2 separate regions of the Homo sapiens genome follow, and region 2 is linked to region 1. The links come from fine-mapping of genetic effects on gene expression. A gene starts in region 1. The other region holds a variant in brackets. All regions are shown on one strand. Distances are from middle to middle.

Region 1 (4,398 bases):
TACAGGCACGCACCACCACGCCCAGCTAATTTTTGTATTTTTAGTAGAGACAGGGTTTCACCATGTTGGCCAGGATAGTCTCGATCTCCTGACCTCGTGATCCGCCCGTCTCGGCCTCCCAAAGTGCTGGGATTACAGGCGTGAGCCACTGCACCCGGCCAGGGCGTTTTATTATAATTTGTTTGGGCCTTGGTAGAAAGCAATCTAAAATGGAATTCAGGGCAAGGATCTTCCCTGAGAGCTCATTTCTCTTCACTTCCAAAAAGATTCATTTAAAAGTTCAAAAATATTACCCACGTCAAACACTTAAAAGCTTACATTTCAAATGTGATACTAATTTATGCTATACATGTTTAAGAGTACTTTAAATCATCCAAATGAGAAAAAAGTTTTTCTGTTGACTTTCTCTTTATACAACTGTACTAGGCAAGGGAAGACCCCCCAGCATTAATTCTAGTTAAATGAATGTCCAAGAAATCAGAGTCTGAATTTAAGTATAAAAGGCATAGCATTGATGGATAATCCTTAATAAAACATAAATTATCTCGAAATAGCTGTTATAGTGCACCTCATTCAGGAAAGTATAAATTTATCAAAAACGGTGACAAGAAAAAGCTCAAAGTTCAAATTACTATGAAATCCACTCCCATTCATAAAATATCAAAATCTTGACAATATTTAAGGTAAAATACGTTATTTACCAAAAATAAAAATCCAATATGTTTAACAGACTTCATTTTTTAAGAACATACTTCCCCTCCCCTCCCCGACCCCCTTCTCTTGGTTTATGTATTTAATATACATGTATTAATTAAGAAGACTAGTCTAAGTCACTTCCACACCAGATAGAGGTCTACAACAGGAATCTGATATATTTTTTTCTTATTTCAAATAGAAAAAAAAGCTCTTGGAGACAGAGACGTTTTCCCTTAGCCAGTGGAAAGATGGGAAGAGAGGGGGCCCCGTGGGGCAGGCAGGCAGGCAGGTCAAAGGCCTCTGGCCTAACAGAGGGCGGCGGTAACACCGAGTCATCCCGGACCGGGAAGAAGCCTTGTACCCAGGCTTCCTGACTTCTGCACACACAGGAGATCGGAGTCAGCTGGAGGAGAAAGTAAAATCACATCCCAGAACCGGCATGAGGTCAAAGCCAGTCAAACCTTGGGCCCGGAGGCTCACTACGCGGCGCGTCCTCGGGGCACCCCCAGACCTTCGCGCCCCGCTCCCGCCCGTGGAGGCACAGAAACTCCAGGGGCGCAGAGCGGACAAAGGCGCCGGGCAGCGGGAGCGAGGCGGGGCAGAGGCCCGGGGCGCGGCCGGGCGCGCAGAAGCTGGGGTTCCCGCCGCTGTGCGCGGGCGGGACGGTCTGCAGGGACATGGACCGGGCGGGTGACGGGACGCGGGCCAGCTGGCTGCTCGAGGCGCGGCCGGCTGAGGCTGTGCACGGGGGCGTTCGGGGGCGTTTGGGCAAGTGGGACCCCGCCCGGGGTGGGAAGCCGCGGCGGGAGCCGGCTGGCTGTGAGCGGTACCGCCCCATGCCGCACTTCCCGCCCCGCGGTGGGCACCCGAGCCCCCTCGGCGTCTCGCTCACCTCCACAGGGCCGCGGCTGCCCTCGCAGCGCCTCTGTTACCTGCAGTGGTCGGCACCGCCCGCGCTCGCGCCCTGAAGCTGCCGCTACCGAGCCCGCAACCCCGTCCGCAGCGCCTCACACCCCGCCCCCGCCCGCTTGCAGGCGGCTGCGGAGACTAGCGCCGAGGGGTGGGGGAGCCGCCGAGCCGACGCCGCCCGGCCAATCGCGGGCCAGCGCCGCAGCGGCGGAGCCAATGAGCGCCGAGCCCCTGCCGGGCGGGAGGGCACCGGAGGGGCGGCGGCGGCTGACTGTCGCCTTGCCTTGCCTGCTGCTTCTCCTTCCTCCTCTGGCATACACTCCCAGGCTTGTCGCAGTGCAGCGTCCCCACCCTCCCAGCGTCTTGTCTCTTAGCAACCAGATCCTAGGAGCCTGATCTTAGGTGACCAACCCTGAGTCCAGAAGAAAGGGGGATATACAGGAGATAAAAGATTAAAGAATGGATGAAATTGTTCTTGGTGCAGATCATTTGGTACACCGCTTAGGTAGAGCGGAAAGATCGCATGATGAGGGACACCGAAAGTATCTTTTAGACCAAGGTCTTTGGGTAAGGACCTGAAGTGTCTTTACCAGGAGGTAGCTCTTTAAAAATGTAAATAGCTCTGGATTACAAATTCGGTTTTCATACATTAATAGGGTGTGTGTGTGTGTGTGTGTGTGTGTGTGTGTGTGTTATTGTGAGGAACACTACTATTGGGCATCTAGTAAAATGCAAACGGCTCAATATTGTAGGGTAACTGCTACATGTCAACATTTCTATCTAATTTCCACTTGGTCTATTCTGAGAACCAAAATTAAATGTTAGGATTAGAAAGAACAGAAAAAGTAAAGCCTTAACCAAATGAATAATTACTACGAGATCTGATGATTAAGTAGAGATTAAGTGGTTCACTGTACAGAATGTCAGGAGTTTTTACCAATTGTATCATCCTGTGACTTTCTGCAGATCTTTTACGATTTTTGTTCCACAAAGACATTAAAGTGGCTGGGTGCGGTGGCTCACACCTGTAATCCCATAATCCCAGCATTTAGGGAGACCAAGACGAGAGGATTGCTTGAGCACAGCCTGAACAACAAAGTGAAACCCTGTCTCTACCAAAAAAAAAAAAAAGTTGTTTTTTTTTTAAGTTAGCTGGGCGTGGTGGCCCCAATGAGCTATGTTTGCACCACTGCACTCCAAGCTGGGCAACAGAGTGAGACCCTGTCAAAAATAAAAATAAAAATAAAGTTAGGCAAGTGTCGTATCATAAGATGTTAGGTTAAGTCAGGTAAATTCTTTTTTTATTTTTTTGAGATGGAGTCTTGCTCTGTTGCCCAGGCTGGAGTGCAGTGGCACCGTCTGGGCTCACTGCAACCTCCACCTCCCTTCAAGCGATTCTCCTACCACAGCCTCCTGAGTAACTGGGATTTACAGGCGCATGCCACCATGTCCAGCTAATTTTTTGTATTTTTAGTAGAGATGGGGTTTCACCATGTTGGTCTTGAACTCCTGACCTCAGGTGATCTGCCCGCCTCGGCCTCCCAAAGTGCTGGGATTACAGGCGTGAGCCACCATGCCCAGCCAGGTAAATTATTATTATTTTTTTTTTGGAGACAGAGTTTCGGTCTTGTCACCCAGGCTGGAGTGCAATGGCGCGATCTTGGCTCACTGCAACCTCCGCCTCCCTGGTTCAAGTGATTCTCCTGCCTCAGCCTCCCGAGTAGCTGGGATTACAGGCGTGTGCCACCACACCCGGCTAATTTTTGTGTTTTTAGTAGAAATGGGGTTTCACCATGTTAGCCAGGCTGGTCTTGAACTCCTGACCTCAGGTGATCTGCCCACCTCAGCCTCCCAAAGTGCTGGGATTACAGGTGTGAGCCACCACACCCAGCCCCAGCCAGGTAAATTCTTAAACAGAAACTGCTTGCCCTCTACTTCCCCTCTTTCTTCTTTCATATAGGCTGGTACTTAGTTGTGATGGTGGTACTTTACAACCATGAAAACAAGAATAATGCATAAGGGGCTGGGCATAGTTAGCTCACGCTGTAATCCCAGAACTTTGGGAGGCTGAGGCAGGAGGATCACTTGAGGTTAGGAGTTCGAGACCAGACTGGTGAAACCTCATGTCTACTAAAAATACAAATATTAGTCAGGCGTGGTGGCGGGTGCCTGTAATACCAGCTACTCCAAGGCTGATGGGGGAAAATCACTTGAACCTGAGAGGCAGAGGTTGCAGTGAGCCGAGATGGTGCCACTGCACTCCAGCCTGGGCTACAGAGCGAGATTCCATCTCAAAAACGACAAACAAAGAATAACACATAAGGGACTGTAGAACACAATATAGCAGGAACCTGGGCCCTGAATTACCTTCTGAAGCAGAGTACCTCTGGTCTGTTCCATGAGAGAAAAATGTTTATCTTAACTACTGTATTTTTTAGTCTCTTTGTTACAGTGGCTTAGTGTATTCCCTAGAAGAGAAAGTTGGTTCCTGAAAGTGGTGTGCCACCTACCATAACAAAGATCTAAGATATATATGGCATTGGTTAGCAGGTGGAAACATATTGCAGGCCAGAAGGCTAGTGACTGTTCCCAAATGTATTGGGGAAAAATGTCACCCATATTAACTTGGAAGGCAGATCATCAAGCCCATATATAGCTCTGAGGAAAGCATCTAGAAAAGGCCAGAATGTGAGTTTGTGTTGGCTACCATTCCTTGCTTTTAGCAAGGTTCAACAAAAAGACACTAAGTCAGTTAACCAGTTTGCTAGCCTGGACAACGTGGTGAAACCCTGT
Region 2 (4,398 bases), 55 kb before region 1:
AAAATTTTAGACCGAACTAGCAAGTATAACTGTTTTAAGGAGTTATTTGAATGGTTACAGAAATATGGTTGGGTTTTAGAGCCCTGAGAACTGTACAGTGGGTGTCTCATATAACAGAAATGATTTACTATCCTAAAACTATCAATGGTTATTTTACCAAATTCAGAATGCCACTAGTTTCACAGAGGACAGAGTAATAATCAGTAATTCCAGCTCAGATGATCAATAGATAAGCATTAAAAACTGAAAGAAAAAAAAGTTGGATTAACATTGTACTTTCCACGATATAATGCTGAAAAAAATTAACCCTTCTGCCCAACACAGTACTGAAATACCTTACCCTGAAACTTCATTTAATGCAGTCTTGAGACCTGTCACTCCTTAATATTCATGCAGACTTAAAATTAGCATCATTGGGAATTTCGTCACACAACCTGCAGTTCTCAATGCTATCTCAAGATTTACAGCTCCAAAGACATACTACAATCAGTGCCATGCATGGTAACACTACCAGTTGTGTTCCCCTAACTTTTAAGGTCTTAAAAAAACTTGGCTACCTGACAGTTTAGGCCTTTCTTTTTCAAATAAATAAAGGAAAACACTGGGAGTCTCAACTATGCAAATTTGTAAATAATTGCTTTCTACATAGCCTAGAATGATATTAGAAGAAAATCAGATTTAAAAAGTTTCATATTTACAATTAGATTTTCATAAAACCTAACTATGCATTTCTTTTAGAATTATGATTTATGTGGATTAAAATAATAATAACATAAAACAGTTGGAAGTCATTGTTCTGAAGATCTTCAAGAAGTGAGCAATTTCAGATGTCCAGAAGAGTGCCTTCTCTCTTTTTACTTATATTTTAAGGTACTTTATGCAGGACGCCCTTGACCAAAACGACTTTTAGACCTAGATTTTTTAAACAGAAAAGGAGGTCAGAATTGCTTCTAAAACAATAGGAAGTTGGTGCTCCTTTAGATTATGTTGGCTTGGCAACATCAAGGTTTAATAAATCTTCTTGCAGCTCCGTAATCCATTTTCTAAAACTCTTAACAGGAGATGTATTTTTGGAATTGAGATTTGTTACTTCTCAGAGATAATACGTTATGTACATTGTATATAATGGATCTGGAGCAGTGCCCCATAATCAAATATAAGTGGGATGAATAAAAAATATAAATGGTATCACAGCAGCTCAGTGCAAGTTTGAATTGCTACAAATGTATGAAAACACTTTCAGCTTTTTGAACTTTCTGGATTTCAGAATCATAAATAAGGAATTAGAATCTGTAATATTAATGTTCAAATCTCAGTAACTGTTAATCTCTAACAGAAAATTTGTGATGTAAAATGACATAAGACCCATCAGTTAGATTTTATTAAGAGAAATAAAATATAAAGCAAGGAGTGGTAAAGATTACAGTGATTTATATAAAGTATTAATATGTGATCTACAAACAGTACAAAAATTCTGCTACTTCCAGTAGCACTATAGCTTACATTTTTATCAGGAGTTGGCTCAGAATGAAGCTAGTCCAACAAGCAGAAAACTTTAAAAAATCCACAAAGCTATATTTTCATTAGATTTTATCTTTTAAGTTAAAATCTGTTTCTAATTAGTGCCTTGATAATATAATCATTGAAACAAAACATAAAACCAAACTCAAATGATATGTTTCTAGTGTTCATATGATTTATCTTAAAAAAAAAATTCACTTCAAAGCCACTGACACTCTGGTTTAGTTTATGCTGATTTACCTTGTGTTTTTCTCTGAGCTGCTTTGGCGTGCACTAACTGGCACTGAGGCCTTGATTTGTGCTTCCAGCCTGGAATAAATACCTCCTGCAAACTGCAGAATAAAGAAGCAATACTGTTATCTTCACAGAATCAATAGAAGCTCTGCTTTATTAAAATGGGATTACTTTTTAATTTAGAAGTAATTTTATTTTGATTTTTTAAATCCAGTCTTTTTGAGGTTTAATTTACATAAAGAAAAATGTACCATTTTAGTGTACAGGTGTGGGTTTTGACAAATGCATACAGTTTTATAACTACTGTCACAATGAAGACACAGAAAATAGTCCTATC[A/G]CCCCCAAGAAAATTCCCTTGTTCCCCTGTCAAGTCGATCTACCTACCACTACCAATTTCTGGCAACTATTTGTCTGTTTTCTATCCCCATAGTTTTGCATTTTCCAGAACATTATATAAGTAGAATCATATAACATGTAGCCACTTGAATCTAGCTTCTTTCACATATAGGAGATTCATCCATATTGATGCATACATCAGAAGTTTGTTCCTTTTTTTTGGAGACAGCATCTCACTCTGTCAGCCAGGCTGGAGTGCAGTGGTGCGATCAAGGCTTACTGCAGCCCTGACCTCCTGGGTGATCCTCCTACCTCAGCCTCCAGAGGAGCTGAGACCTCACAGGTGTGCACCACCATGCCCAATTAATTTCTTATTTTTTGTAGAAACAGAATCTCCCTATGTTGCCCAGGCTGGTCTTGAATTCCTGGGCTCAATGTTCTTTTTGAGATGGAGTATCGCTCTGTGTTGCCCAGGCTAGAGTGCAGTGGCACGATCTTGGCTCACTGCAACCTCAACCTTCCGGGTTCAAGTGATTCTCCTGCCTCAGCCTCCTGAGTAGATGGGATTACAGGCCTGCACCACCACGCCCAGCTAATTTTTGTATTTTTAGTGGAGACGGGGTTTCACCATGTTGGCCAGATGGTCTTGATCTCTTGACTTTGTGATCCGCCCGCCTTGGCCTCCCAAAGTGCTGGGATTACAGGTGTGAGCCACTGCACCCGGTCCAATGTTCTTTTTATATGCAGTTTGTTTTCCCATTTACCAGGTAAAGGACATCATTTATAGTATTTCTAGTTTTTAGCAATTATGAATAAAGCTATTATAAAAATGTGTGAATTGATCTGTATGGTGAGGGAATGTCTATAAGAAATTGCCAAACTATTTTCCAAAGTGACCATTCCTTTTTGCATTTCTACTAGCTATATATGAGAGTTCCAGTTGCTCCACATCCTCATCAGCACTTGGTATGGGTTTTTCCCTTTGGAGACAGGGTCTCGTTCTGTTGCCCAGGCAGGAGTGTAGTGGCGTGCTCTTGGCTCATTGCAACTTCTGCCTCCCAGGCTCAAGCGATCCTCCTACTTCAGTCTCGCTAGTAGCTGGGACTACAGGCATCCACCACCATACCTGGCTAATTTTTGTTACTTTTTTTTGTAGAGATAGGGTTTCATCATGTCGCCCAGGCTGGTCTCAAACTCGTGGGTTCAAGTGATCCTTCCACCTTGGCCTCCCAAAGTGCTGGGATTACAGGTGTGAGCCACTGTATCCGGCCTCATTTAGGTTTTAATTTACATTTCCCTAAGGACTAATGATGTTGTATCTTAGCACATCTAATGATATATGCTTATCTGGCATGGAAATCCTTTTTTTCATGGTGTCTGTTTACTCTTTTGCCCATTTATTTTTATTAGGTTTTTAAATTTTATTATTGAGTTTTGAGAGTTCTTTATAGATTCTGGATACACATTCCTTATCAGGTGTTTTACACATATTTTCTCATAGTTTATGGCTTGTCTTTTCATTGTCTAAATAGTGTCTTTTGAAAAGTAGAAATTTTAAATGCTGATGAAGTCCAATTTTTCATTTATGGATCATGCTTTTGGTGTTGTAGGCTAAGAAATATTTTCCTAAGGTCACAAATATTTTCTCCTATGTTTCCTTTTAGAAGTTTTATAGGGAAGTAAATTTTTAAATAAAAGAATTAGGGCAAGAGTATGGTACTTACATAATACCAATACTAATGATAATACATAATGTCATGACTAAAATGTAATTCTAGCAAGAATATAGGTGTTTCTTGTCACCATTTTCAGCAAGATGACATCTTATTTTAGAGATGACATCTAAGCACTACATGCAGAGTTGATGAAAATTGGTACTTTCAGACAGTCGCCTGCTGGATAGTTAGCATTTGGTCAACAACGCACAGTTAACCTACTCTTGGTGTGATGACACATTTTCAGCAATGATGTACTTTATTATATGTGTTATAGATGACCTATGGACCATGGATAATAAGACATGGTGGAAAACTTTTACGTGAATAAACAGGCTAACTGATACAGAATATAAAAAAATACATAAATGTGGCCAGGCATTGTGGCTCACGCCTATAATCCCAGTACTTTAGGAGGCTGAGGCGGGCAGATCACGAGGTCAAAAGCTCAAGACCAGCCTGGCCAACATGGTGAAACCCCGTCTCTACTAAAAATGAAAAAATTAGCCGGGCATGGTGGTGCATGCCTGTAGTCCCAGCTACTTGGGAGGCTGAGGCAGGAGAATCACTTGAACCTGGGAGGTGGAGGTTG

Alleles and levels. Alleles are on the strand shown, and positions count from the first base shown. SD is a standard deviation of normalised expression in the study named.
With allele A in place of G in region 2, the expression in tibial artery of the gene that starts at base 1,745 in region 1 is higher (small effect, 0.16 SD a copy in GTEx).

What was found. PIP is the estimated chance that this variant, and not a neighbour inherited with it, causes the effect.
Region 2: its variant is the best candidate, but not a certain one, in a credible set for the expression of SANBR in tibial artery (GTEx, PIP 0.61).

What each region holds. Positions count from the first base shown.
Region 1 is chr2:61,063,218-61,067,615 of GRCh38, reverse strand. It overlaps SANBR (SANT and BTB domain regulator of CSR), which reads right to left and starts at 1,745. Exons shown (of 22, transcript NM_001129993.3): 1 at 1,589-1,745. RefSeq lists silencers at 1,146-1,205, 1,216-1,565, 1,596-1,965 and enhancers at 855-1,354, 1,355-1,856.
Region 2 is chr2:61,118,640-61,123,037 of GRCh38, reverse strand. It overlaps SANBR (SANT and BTB domain regulator of CSR), which reads right to left. Exons shown (of 22, transcript NM_001129993.3): 21 at 1,762-1,853; 22 at 1-912. The coding sequence ends at 876. Among named protein-coding and RNA genes, the nearest start is that of C2orf74-DT, 24 kb to the left of the region's middle. The variant A/G (reference allele first, on the strand shown) is at 2,093.